Homo sapiens: one gene and its partner. The protein of the gene in region 2 interacts with the protein of the main gene of each other region in a pairwise test. Each region holds a gene or a part of one and is shown on either strand. Other genes may lie near its edges.

Region 1 (6,043 bases), on a different chromosome or scaffold from region 2:
CGGGCACCTATAATCCCAGCTGCTCAGGAAGCTGAGGCAGGAGAATCGCTTGAACCCAGGAGGCGGAGATGGCAGTGAGCTGAAATCGCACCATTGCATTCCAGCCTAGGTGACGAGAGGAAGATTCTGTCTAAAAAAGAAAAAAAGAAAGAAAAGAAAAAAAGAAAATGTGCTACCCTTAGGGAGTGGTGGTCTCAGGGTGGGGTTGATGGTTGAGTGCCCCTGGCTACGTTATTGTTATTGCTGCCGCCATTGTGCCCTTAGAAGGGGCAGTGCTGTGGATATAGCAGGGATGGGACATGGGTCTTCCTGGGGCACAAGGAGGCCTCTGGTGCCAAGGTGGCGAGGCAGTGGCAGGATGTCTTGCGGGAGGGTGTCCAGGGTGGGTTTGAGGGACAGCCTGGGGCCAGGGGCTGTGGCCGGAAGGGGAGTCCGCTGGAGGAGGCTGGGAGGTGAGGTCCGAGGGGTCAGGAGCTTCCCTGTGCAGGTCCTGCATGTCCTGGGGGGCCTCTGGCATTGAGCAGGGGAGGGATAGGCACCGACTCAGCTTCCACAGGCCCTCTGTGGCTGCCATGGAGACTGGGGGGCCATGGGCAGAGGCAGAGAGGCTGGCAAGTTGTGCCCCGAACTGGCTGGGCAGGCACTGTTAGATTCAGGCCTTGAGGGTGGGAGAAGGGGTCGGATCCTAAATAGACTCTTCAGAGCCCTCAGTGTGGGAGTGAGGTGTGGAGCTGAGGTTTTTGGCTGGAGCTGCTGGGGGCCCGAAGGGGGTGGCCATTCGCACTGGGAAGGCGGAGTGGGGAGCTGGCTTGGGCAAGACCAGAGCACGATCGTGGGTCAATCAGGGTGGAAGCGTCCTCCAGTCACGTCTGGGGGCCCTGGGATGGGGGTAGAGGAGCCCGGAGCCACCAGCCCAGCCAGACATGCTGTCGTCTCTGTTGCAGGAGCCGCCCTGCCTGGAGCTAGCCTGGGGGCGAGCCAGGGTCCCCCAACCCCCGGGATGACCGCGGCCAGCCGGGCCAACCCCTACAGCATCGTGTCATCGGAGGAGGACGGGCTGCACCTGGTCACCATGTCGGGCGCCAACGGCTTCGGCAACGGCAAGGTGCACACGCGGCGCAGGTGCCGCAACCGCTTCGTCAAGAAGAATGGCCAGTGCAACATTGAGTTCGCCAACATGGACGAGAAGTCACAGCGCTACCTGGCTGACATGTTCACCACCTGTGTGGACATCCGCTGGCGGTACATGCTGCTCATCTTCTCGCTGGCCTTCCTTGCCTCCTGGCTGCTGTTCGGCATCATCTTCTGGGTCATCGCGGTGGCACACGGTGACCTGGAGCCGGCTGAGGGCCGGGGCCGCACACCCTGTGTGATGCAGGTGCACGGCTTCATGGCGGCCTTCCTCTTCTCCATCGAGACGCAGACCACCATCGGCTACGGGCTGCGCTGTGTGACGGAGGAGTGCCCGGTGGCCGTCTTCATGGTGGTGGCCCAGTCCATCGTGGGCTGCATCATCGACTCCTTCATGATTGGTGCCATCATGGCCAAGATGGCAAGGCCCAAGAAGCGGGCACAGACGCTGCTGTTCAGCCACAACGCCGTGGTGGCCCTGCGTGACGGCAAGCTCTGCCTCATGTGGCGTGTGGGTAACCTGCGCAAGAGCCACATTGTGGAGGCCCATGTGCGCGCGCAGCTCATCAAGCCGCGGGTCACCGAGGAGGGCGAGTACATCCCGCTGGACCAGATCGACATCGATGTGGGCTTCGACAAGGGCCTGGACCGCATCTTTCTGGTGTCGCCCATCACCATCTTGCATGAGATTGACGAGGCCAGCCCGCTCTTCGGCATCAGCCGGCAGGACCTGGAGACGGACGACTTTGAGATCGTGGTCATCCTGGAAGGCATGGTGGAGGCCACAGCCATGACCACCCAGGCCCGCAGCTCCTACCTGGCCAATGAGATCCTGTGGGGTCACCGCTTTGAGCCCGTGCTCTTCGAGGAGAAGAACCAGTACAAGATTGACTACTCGCACTTCCACAAGACCTATGAGGTGCCCTCTACGCCCCGCTGCAGTGCGAAGGATCTGGTAGAGAACAAGTTCCTGCTGCCCAGCGCCAACTCCTTCTGCTACGAGAACGAGCTGGCCTTCCTGAGCCGTGACGAGGAGGATGAGGCGGACGGAGACCAGGACGGCCGAAGCCGGGACGGCCTCAGCCCCCAGGCCAGGCATGACTTTGACAGACTCCAGGCTGGCGGCGGGGTCCTGGAGCAGCGGCCCTACAGACGGGAGTCAGAGATCTGAGCCAACCTTGGCCGACATGCAGCATCCACCCCCGGCTGGGGAGAGGCCCCGCGGTCGCTCAGGGGCCCCGGGTTTGAGCAGAACGGGCCCAGTGCCCTGGGTTGCAGACTCAGTAGCGTTTTAGTCGTTTTATGTTTCTTTGCAACGGCCTCAGAAGTTTGGCCGGAGAGGGGGCAGCCAGAGCGGCAGCCCCCGGCCTCAGAGGCTATCACAGGCTCAGGGCAAAGAAGTGGCCTCCTGGGGGGCCAGGCCACGAGGGCCAGGGCTTCTGCCTGAAGATGGAGCTGCAGCCTGCGGGGAAGCAGCTCAGCTCGATGGTGGGCCCAGCCTCTGCTGTCCAAGGCTGGCTAGCTGCGGTGCTCCTTGCTGGTTTTTAACTTGGGGAGAAACACCGGGTTTCAGCTTTCTTGACCTTAGCTTGGGTGAGACTGTTTACAAAAAAAAAAAATTACCATGCAATTGAAAAAATTTTTTTTTAATTCACAGGGGGCAAAAAGAACAATTAGAATTCCATGGGTCTGCCAGGATGCAGCAGCTGGCTGAAGGCTCCAGAGGGTTCCCCGAGGTGGGACTGGCCTCTCCCCGTGTGTGTGGGCACCACAGTCCCTGGGCAAGCAGGGTGCTCTGGGACCGCACTTCATCGAGCTCACGAGCCAGCTAGGCTCTGTTTGTGATAGAAAAATCAAGACCATGTTAATGATCGTAATAAAAGCTTTCTACTGTCGTTGGGGTGGTGGGTGGGGCTGGGAAGAAACTGGTTTGAGCTTTTAGAGTTTGCCTTTGTACCTTAGAGATGTGTCTCAGGGCCAGGCATGGGACCTGCCATCGAGGGTTCCTCCCCGCACCCTCGATTTTCCTGTTTTGCTTCTCTCTCCATTTCTGTCCAGGCCTCCGCCCAATTCCACAGTGAGGGGTGGTTAGGAGCTATAGGCCGGGATGGCTCCTTGGGAAGGGAAGTCGGGATCCCAGGCTAGGAGGAAGCTGGCAGCCCCGTCCCCACTGGGCCCACAGTGTGAGTCGTGCCTTAGAGACTCCGGGTTGTCCTGTTCTTTCTGGGCTTGCTCATCTCCCCCCAACCCTGTCCCACCCCACCCCTCCCATACCTCCACTGCTGAAGTTCCTCCAGCCCCTCTGTCTGCCTTGTGAAGGTGGCAGGGGCCAGGTCTGCCTGACATAGGACCACATCCTGTCCCTCCCTCACCTGGAGCAGCACAGCAGAGTTCAGGCAGGGCACAGCCAGGCCCTGGTCAGCGCTGAATGGCAGAGGAAAGATCTTAGGAAAGGAGAGGAATCGCCACCCCCTCCTGCCAACTGGGATGACTGGGGAGGGCCACGCTCATTCAAAGCTGAATCAGAAACCAGCCGTGGAACAGAATTCCTGCCGAGTCTTCCAGGGCCGCTCCTCCACCACCCTCCCCCAGGTTGAGGCACTATGGCACCCTCATCAGGAAGAGGTTTGGGGTCCCCTTGTTGTCACTGCTGGCTCTGCCACCCCATCTTGTTCATGGCAGCTGGTTGGGTCAGGTCCATGGTAGAGCCAGGCCCTTCCCAGGGCTGCGGAGAAAACCTGCTCTCTTCTAGTCGGGCTTCTCCAGAAGCCAGTAATCAGAAAGGATGTGTCTCCTGCTCCAACTCTGCCCCCGAGACAGCTCAGAGCCAGAAGGCACCCCGAGACAGCTCAGAGCCAGAAGGCACCCCGAGACAGCTCAGAGCCAGAAGGCACCGAGGACTCTGGCCCAAGTGGGGAAGCTGAGGCAGAGAGCAGAGGGGGTCATGCAGTGAGTGGGTGGGGTGCAGGAGACAGAGAGGGGCTGGGGGCGTGGGGTGGGGGTGTCTGCCTCTTCCCTCCACCTCCTCCCCTCCTTAGCAGCTGAAGACTCAGCCCTGAGGTCTGGGGCAATGGAAGTCAAGACACCCGACCCCTACATCCTGGGGTAGGCCCGACTCAGCATCCTGTCCCAGCTTCAGCCCCACACTCATTTCTGGCATAGAAGATTCCGCCGAGGCAGCTCTTTCCTCTCGGGGTCTGCCAGGGGTGCCTCAGCTGGTTCCTGCTCCCAGGCCTAGCCCCGAAGCCTTAGGGGCCTTCTCAGCCTTAGCCCTGGGTACTGGGGTGAAGTTGGCAGGGGAGAGCTTGACACTTCGCCTCCCTGATGGCCATGCTGAGGGACAGTGGTGACCCTGGTCACTTGGTGCTGGTGTAGGGGCCTGTGCCCTTCCAGGGCCAGTGAGACAGCCTTCTACTCCCCCGACCCAGAGCTGAGTCCGAGGACCCCAGGCCCACCTCCTGGCCCTCTTGGAGGTCTGTGCTCTTACCTCCCAGCCCCCACCCTGCGGGAGAGCAGCCCCAGCGCCTCATCTCCCCAAAGGCGGCAGATGCTTGATTCTCCTGCCCTCTTTCTTCCTTCCCTCGTATTTATTTATTTATTTATTGCTTGTGCTAAAGACCAAAATAGTCTCCCTCTTTAGTGCACTTGAAGCGGGAGGGCGGATGGGATGAGCCAGGAGCGAGGAAGACTTGGCCCCTGGGGAGTGTGTGTGTGGAGGCGTGTGCCTGTGTGAGCCTGCATGCATACATGTGTGGTGCACACATGCACACTCGGCTCTTCATGTGTATGACTGGGTTAGTAATACAGATACGTGATCTATACGTGTGTGTGTGTGTGTGTGTGTGTGTGTGTGTGTATGCAGGCGGTTATGTGTCTGTCTACCCCCAGGTGTTTCCGTGTACAAGTTTCCTGTGAGGGAGGGCACCCACCCATCAGGTTGGGCACTGGCACAGGTGAACCCCACAGTCCCCGACCCTCTGCCCTGATTATGCACGTCTGCTCCTGAGTGGAGCTTGTGTTCCAGGATGAGACATCTGGAGGTGAGCGTGTGCGTCCGGCTCGTGTGTAGGAGGCTGTGTGTGTGCCCATGTGAAACCGTGTACTTGAGTGTGTGTCTGTGTGCAGCCTATGCCTGCTGCTCAGAGCACGGTGGCCACCCCCTGAGCCTCTGCTGGTGCTGTGCTGCGTGGTCCCCACCCAGAGGGTCCTGGGGGGCGGGGAGGAGCCACCGTTGGGAGGCCCCTGTACGGGGTGTCTGCCCTGCGTGAGGGCATAGAATGTCAAATTATTTTAAATGGTGAAACTGGAGAGTTTTCATGTTATTTTCAATACATAGCAGTATCTAAAGACGTAGGCGATGAGACTAGACCACATTAAATGCATTTTGATCTCTTTGAGGTCCCCTGTGTTGAGATGTGTTTTCTGAAGTTCCCCTGCATGGCTCCACAGCGTGCTGGGCGTCCGCCCGGCTTCCTCAGCCTCCGCCTTGGGTGGGGGTTTCCTGGGGCTTCCTCATGGGTGAGGGTGGGGCATGGTGGCAGCTGTTGGGAGATGGAACAGAACTCAGCCTCCTTGCAGCTCCCAGTGGTCTCCAGCAAGCACACAGGGCTTGTCCCATGATGTCACCCATCCCAGGCGGCAGGGCCGAGCCTCCTGCCTTCCCTTCCTTCTGCAAGGATGTGCTGGGTGCCTGCTGTTGCAGCAGCGCCCTCCCCAGCTGGGGGAGGCTGACCTGAGACAGGCAACTCCTTTCCCAGGAGGGGAAGCCCTGCTCCAGCTTGTAGCAGGCAGGGGCTGAGGAGGAGTTTCAGAGCGTGCCAATGTCTCCACTGAGGTGACGAGACAAGCCTGGAGTGGGGTGAGGGAACACACACGGCCCAGTTTTGGGAAACTAGACTTTCATCTGTACCTT
Region 2 (7,029 bases):
AGTACAATATTTTCTGGGGAAAGAAGTGACTAGAACCATGTTGCTCAGACAGTGTTGGGCCCTCTTTTCTCATGTGACTTTAGCTTCTGAGCTCCTGCACCCCACCTCAGGTCCCTGATCCCCCTGTGCTCTGAGGCTGGGGATCCCTGAGGATGAGGCCTCACTCGGGGTGGTGTGTCAGCAGGCAGCACAGTTTACAGGGTGAGACTCTGGGCTGCAGGAGAAATGGAAAAGCTGACCTCCCAGGACCTTCCTTGTATAATCTTGGCCCCCAGCTTTCTCTGCTGCAGGTTTCATCAGAGATGACTTAATCTCTTATGCAACCCTGTGGATGGGAGGAGAGGAAGAAAATGGGCCTCATCTTCTCAGGAAGGATGTTACTTCTTCTTGGAGGGCTTCCAGGAGGTGGTGGCTGGCTGGGAATTTAGGGGACTTCGGGATTGGAACAGGGATGGAAAAGTCATATTCACTCCCCATGTTTATGGAGGTTCTAGTCAAACCCCCAGGGCCTGGATCCTGCTGACTGAGATCATTTTTCTTTCATGTATTCATCCATACATCCACAACCCACTGAGATGGTTAGGATGTTTGTCCCGTCCAAATCTCATGTTGAAATGTGATCCCCAGTGTTGAAGATGGGGCCTGGTGGGAGGTGTTTGGGTCATGGGGGCGGACCCTTCACCATGGCTTGGTGCCCTCCCTGTGGTCATGAGTGAGTTCTTGCTCGTTAGTTCACATGAGACCTGGTTGTTTAAAAGAACCCGGCAGCTCTCTTGCTCCCTCTCTCGCCATGTGATATGCCAGCTCCCCCTTTGCCTTCTGCTATGATTGGAAGCTTCCTTAGGCCTCACCAGCTGCAGATGCCTGCACCATGCTTCTTATACAGCCTGTAGAACCATGAACCAAAATAAATCTCTTTTCTTTATAAATTACCCAGTCTCAGGTATTCCTTTATAGCAATGAAAAACAGACTGACACTCACCATCTATCCACTCATTCATCTATCCATCTATCCACCTATCTGCCTGCTCATCTATCATCCATCTATCCATCCATCCTTTCATCCATCCATCCATCCACCCACCCACACATCCAAATAAATACTGATTGATTACCCACTTTGCCCAGGCACACTACCTCTTGAGCAGTGCTTAGCACAATGCCTGGCTATTGTGATGGTAATATTGCTCAGTGATGGTAATTATTCCTTCAGGTGCTCTGAAGATTCCTCGAAAATACATCTGAGAAATTCTTTTGACATCCCGGATTATTCTCCAGCCTACTTAGTTATAAATGAGTCTGCGTGTGTCTCAGTCTGTGCTGATAAGACGGATGGAGTCCTCCTTTCCTTACAGTAGTAAGTACAGTACTTACAGTAATAATCCTACCGCCAATGGCTTCTGTATGTGTCTTTTAATTATCTTTCTTCTTCTTCTTCTTCTTTTTTTTTTTTTTGGTGTTTGCAGAAGCCATTGGTGCTAACATTTGAATTATTTCCAGGGATTGCCTTTGGGTGCTGTGTGTGGGGCAAGTGCTCTATTTTCTGTGAATCTCAGAAAACATGCTCTCAGAGGGCTGGGCTGGGCTTGGAGGAGGCAGCTGTTCCCCTAGCTCAGATTTGAGCATTGAGAGAGCTTTGGCCACAGCATGCTAGTTTGGGGAGATATTTATAAGGCCCGGCTCAGGCAGCTCTAGGCAGCTGTACCATGCAGCACAAGCATACGGTGACTTCATTTCTTAATTCCTTTCCAGAAGAGAGGAGATGGCTTTTTCTTGGAGGGTGGTGGGCTGAAAGCCTGCATCTGCGTGCTGAGGCTCAGGACACTGTGTGCAGTTGGAGAGAGGGGCTGGAGGGTGAGGAAGGGGGAACGATGGTGCACATTCTGTCGGTGTCCCCTTCTGTGGCATATTTATTTTTGGAACAGCAAGAGACCCAGTTGATTAATTGAAACCAGCCAGCGCAGTCCCCGCAGTCTCTGAGAGGGCGGGGAAGGTGTAGGATAGCAGGGCGGGGGATTGCTTGAGGATGCGGGGGAGGACAACAGTCACCCGGGGTCGAAAATACCTCCCCCAGAGTCCTGCATGACTCAGTCCGTAGGCATCCAGGACCTTGGACAATTCAAATAGGATATCTGTGGGTGGGGAAATAGCTCTTAGCAGGGTGGGGAGGTATATGGTCCCAGTATCCACTGGCCATTGAGTTACTGTATGATTTGGGGCATGGTACTTTCCCTCTCTGAGATCCTAGGTTTTTTGTTTGTTTGTTTTCTTTTTTCAACTCTACACAGAGACGATTGGGCCAAGATCTGTAATGACACGGAGTTAGCTTCAGAGTCAGAAAACCCAAGTGAGAGGCTTAGCTTTTGCCAGATCCCAGCTTCCTCCCCTATTACCTTGCTACTTAAAAGGCAGTTCACAATCAGTGTGTCCTGTCTCCCAACAAGGTAATTATAGAAGTTGAGAGTGCTTAGAAATATTCATAGAAATTTGATGCAGTAATTTTATGTTTATTGAATCTAACAATAAACATTGGTGCTTGTAACTGTACGGCTGTTTTCATTTCATTTTTCCAGTGATTAATTTTTGTTGCGTTTTGCAAAAGTATAGCTGTGCAGTGGATTAGAATAATAATATTAAAACTGGTCCTTCACTCAGTTTTAGAGGCACTGGCCTACAAAGTAGGAAGTAAAATGAGGTGATAGCTGCAAAAACTGTAAAAATGACAAAGCTCTGCATCTTTTGTTATAAAAGGTAGCAACAAAAGAATACAACTGTGTACAATCTGGGATAACCATGGTAACACCCACGATGTATATGGCCCTTTATGCATGTCAGTTTGGGGCCATGTATCTTACATGTGTTATTTCACATGGCACGTAAGGGACTGGCAGAGTGACGCTCAGGTCAGCCTGACAGCAGGGTGATTGAAGGGGCCAGATACCCCAGCAGGGCCTGAGGCCAGAACACAGCATAGGCTGGCTCTGATGGGTGGAGGAGGTGGCCAGGCATCATCTGGAGCTTGGAGTTGAGAACATCTGTGACTCCTCCTTCAGGAGGGTGCTCTAGGAGTTGAGAGCATCCTAGGTAGGACCATATATCTACCCCCATCCTAGTTCCCTCCAGCCTCTCTTTTCAGCTCCAGGTCTACCTTAAGGGACCTAGGACACCTGGGCTGGGGCATAACAGGACTTGGTTTTATGTAAAGGAGCTGGGAAGAGACTGAGATAACAGAGGGCTGCAAGGAGAGAGACAGAGAGAGAAGAACCTGCCAGAAGAAGCTCCTCAGCAATCCACTAAGCCCTGATCTTTGCCTCACTGCCTGTCCCTTCCCATCCGCTCTTCTGCTCTCTCAATCTCTGCCTTCAAGAAATTTGGTGCATATTGGAATAGGGAGGAATAGAAGTACCCTGGGTGGAGCTCTGGGCTTGGCTGTGCACGAGCTTTCAGTGGGTGGTTTGCTGGTCTCCAAAGATGACCCTCCATTAGTCATGCTTCTCGGTGTTTGTCCTCAGGTAGTCTCATCCCATCTTGAGTCTGGGCTTGCCCTGTGACTCACTTTAACCACAAGAATGTGGCAGAAAGGATGTTGTGCCAGTTCTAGAACTAAGCCTTCAGAAAGCCTAGCACCTTCTGCTTTTAGGAGCACTGAGCCCCCATGTTAGAAGTCCACTTTTATACTCTGCTCTGGAGACTAGCAGAATTAGAAATGCACTGCTGAATGCTGCTCGAGAGACTAATGGAGAGGCCATGTGAATAAGGAGGCCTGAAACTACATGGAGATAGAGGGCCAGCCACCCCAGCACCACAGCTCAGCTGTGCCTCCCAGCCATCTCTGCCAGTCCTCCAGGGCTATGAGTGAACCATCTTGGATGTTCTAGCTCGGTGGAGCCCCCAGGTGATTGCAGCCTCAGCCACCATCTGACTGTAGCTGCATGAGAGGCCCCCAGTGGGACCAGCAGGACTGCCAAGCTGAGCCCTGCCCACCCACAGAACTGTGAGAAATAAAAAAATGGTTGTTTCCTTAAGCCATTAAGTTTTGGAATGATTTGTTACTCACAATTGATAACTGATACAGTCTGTCTTTAGGGAAAACAAGGGATAACTCTGGGCTCCAGGTGTCTTCTATAGGATGAATGGGACTTGGTTGCTGACAAGCTGACAAGTTTGAGCGTGAAACTCTTTTTTTTTTTTTTTGGAGAAGGAATTTTGCTCTTGTTATCCAGGCTGGAATACAGTGGTGCGATCTCGGCTCATGGCAACCTCTGCCTCCTGGGTTCAAGCAATTCTCCTGCCTCAGCCTCCTGAGTAGCTGGGATTACAGGCACCCACCACTACACCTGGCTCTTTTTTTTTTTTGTATTTTTAGTAGAGACAGGTTTTCATCATGTTGGCCTGGTCAGGTTTTGAACTCCTGACCTCAGGTGATCCACCTGCCTTGGCCTCCTAAAATGCTGGGATTACAGGTGTGAGCCACCGTGCCTGGCCTGAGCATGAAACTTTTATGCTCAAACATTAAAGTGTAAACATTCACCAGCTCAGCTGAATAAGAACTTCTGGGGGCAAGGCCAAGGAATCTGCAGTTTAGTAAGTGCCCCCACCACTGGACCCTGGGAAAGTGGACTGCATTTTGAAAAACTCTAGATCAGTTGATACCCAGGAGTCCTCATAACACTAAGTTGTAATACCTCAGTGTGAATTAGTCTGATGCAGCTCTTCTTAGAGGTCATTGACAGAGGGCAAGACATTTCCAAAAGGAAGGAATTGCCAATATGGAATGACAGGTGGATTGGATGACCCTCTATTATTTAGTTTCAACCTGCCCTTCCTGCCTTCTCTCCCACAAATTCCCTTTCAGATCCTCTGTCCTAATCCTCTTCGATAGTTCATTATTCTTCTGCAGACAGAGCAGCGAAGTGTTATCTGTTGTACCCACTATGACTAGCTGATGGTGCATGGCTTCCATGGAGCAGTGCTGTGATCCATTAGTCATGGAGCAGTGCTGTGATCCATTGTCATGTCTGCCATGAACACTGGAAGGGGCAGTGGTAATGACAGCCTCTTACGTTTGCCAACTCTGCCCAACATTCTTCCCAGTGTTGGGAAAGCCTTTGCTTATTCCATTTCTTCTTGGAAAGCTTTGTTCCTCCATTTCACATTTTTAATTTTTCTCATTTTTATGATGCACCATGGATACCACCTGTCCATATAGCTGGCTTCTGATTTTTCCAGATGAAAGTAATTCTTCCTCTCCTAACCTCCCATGACACCTAACCTGGCACTCATTTACGGTGTTCAGCTCCTTCTCCTGTATGTTCTCATTGTTCTCCTCTCATCTTCTCCCCAGGAATGGATTCCCCGCCAAGGGAGGTACCAGGTCAGTTTCTTCTTTGTGCAACAGGGTGTCCCTGATGAGCACAAACCTGGAACAAGTGTTTGTAGGGCTGGTGGGCATCTGGTTCCTCTGGGTGTTGTGTAGCCTGAGCCGGGGGGCAAATGGGTGTTTGTTTTTCTGAAGAAGGCAGGCGTTCTGTGGCAGATGTGGGTGGAGGGGGTTGGGGAGTAGTATCATGGAGAGGCTGGGATCCTATCTATCTCCTTCCCCTGCTTGAAGGGCAACTTGGGAGAAGCTCAAGAGGGAGGAGTTGACTGCAGAAGCTGGGATACCTGCATAACTCTCAGGTTCAAGCATCACTGCTTTAGGGCCCTGGGGGCCTATGTGTGAGTCAAGAAAGGGAGATAGAGAGAGAAGAGAGAGAGAGGAGAGAGAGAGAGAGAGAAGACAGAGGAGAGAGAGAGAGAGAAGAAAGAGGAGAGAGAGAGAAGAGAGAGCAGAGAGAGAGAGCATGCTGTCAGTGAGGTGGCCCTAAGCCCTCTTGGAAATAACTTGGAGGCACTGTGGGGTGGCTCTGAGGTGCTGAGGTATACCTGTAGTGGGGCTAGGACCTTTCCAACCTGGGTCTGAAGGTTGAGGCAACCTTGGGTGTACCTGCTGGTGAGCTGAGAGCCCTGGGGACCTTTGGCAGACATTCCCACCCCTGCAGCCTGGAGGGTTTGCATGCAGTGAGGCTGTCCTGCTCATCACTACGTCCTCTGGGACAGCACATTGCCTGTGCTGAACAGGCATTCAGTTGCGATTTGTGGAATCAGTGTTGGTGAGGAGGGCAAGTGGCAACAGAAATGGGGGTGTGCTCCCCCCAGTTCCTCAGCTACAATCTCCATGACCTTCTACACTGCCCTGGGCCCAGTCCCGAGCCTTGGAGACCACAGCTGAAGTCTGTTGGAGTATACAGGGCTCTTCCTCTGTTCTTGGCTGCCTGGGTTTAAAGGCAGGGCCAAAAAGGGGTGCCTCCCCTCTACTGGGGGTCAAATCCATGGATGTAGTATGCCTATCTCCTACTCTTCATCCTTGGCTTTTTTAAATGTGAAACGGCCGTGACTGGTGGCACCAGGGACTTGGGACCAGAGAGGGCAAAGGATTTCCTCAGAGTCACACAGCAAGTTACTGTCAGGTCTTGGACCAGAACTTGAGTCTGTAGCCAGGTCCTATTCCAGCATTCTTTCCGTGTCACTCATCCTAGCCCATGAGAAACCTGCTACCACCTGTGAGGCCACCCTGCCACCTGCCACCTGGGGCACTGCCAGGGCCTCCTGCACCTTCCTCTCAGTCTCTGTCCAGTTTCTCCATCTCTCTCTGTCTCCCTCATTCCCTTTTCCTTCCCATCTCTCTTTTCCTCCATCGATGGCAAAACCCGGGCAGTTGAGAGGCTGAACAGTCTGGCTTCATCCCTCCTAGCCACAGTCCCCTCTCTCCTTCTTTCTTTTCTTTATTCTTTAACAGACTGTAACAGAGACCTGAAATCTACCTAAACCTGTTTGTGATCTATATCTGAGTCTGCTTTATGATCCTTGTTCTGCATTAACTTTTTTCATTTCTCACTCACTAAAAATAAAAGAAAGAAAAAGTCAAACAAATCCCTAAAGCAGAGAATGTCCAAAACATACCAAATAACCACCTCCTCTGGACAAAAT

Evidence for each region. The genes of interacting proteins can lie anywhere in the genome.
Region 1: the proteins of CAV3 (region 2) and KCNJ12 come close enough for resonance energy transfer, tested with the Homo sapiens proteins (one study listed by BioGRID).

Annotation. Positions count from the first base shown.
Region 1 is NC_000017.11:21,414,343-21,420,385, forward strand, and holds the end of KCNJ12 (ATP-sensitive inward rectifier potassium channel 12), read left to right. Parts: intron 1-944; 5' UTR 945-1,000; coding exon 1,001-2,302; 3' UTR 2,303-5,528; downstream 5,529-6,043. UniProt on the Homo sapiens protein: Inward rectifying potassium channel that probably participates in controlling the resting membrane potential in electrically excitable cells. Probably participates in establishing action potential waveform and excitability of neuronal and muscle tissues.
Region 2 is NC_000003.12:8,736,787-8,743,815, reverse strand, and holds part of CAV3 (caveolin-3), read right to left. Parts: intron 2,548-7,029; exon of another isoform or gene 1,214-2,547; intron 1-1,213. UniProt on the Homo sapiens protein: May act as a scaffolding protein within caveolar membranes. Interacts directly with G-protein alpha subunits and can functionally regulate their activity. May also regulate voltage-gated potassium channels.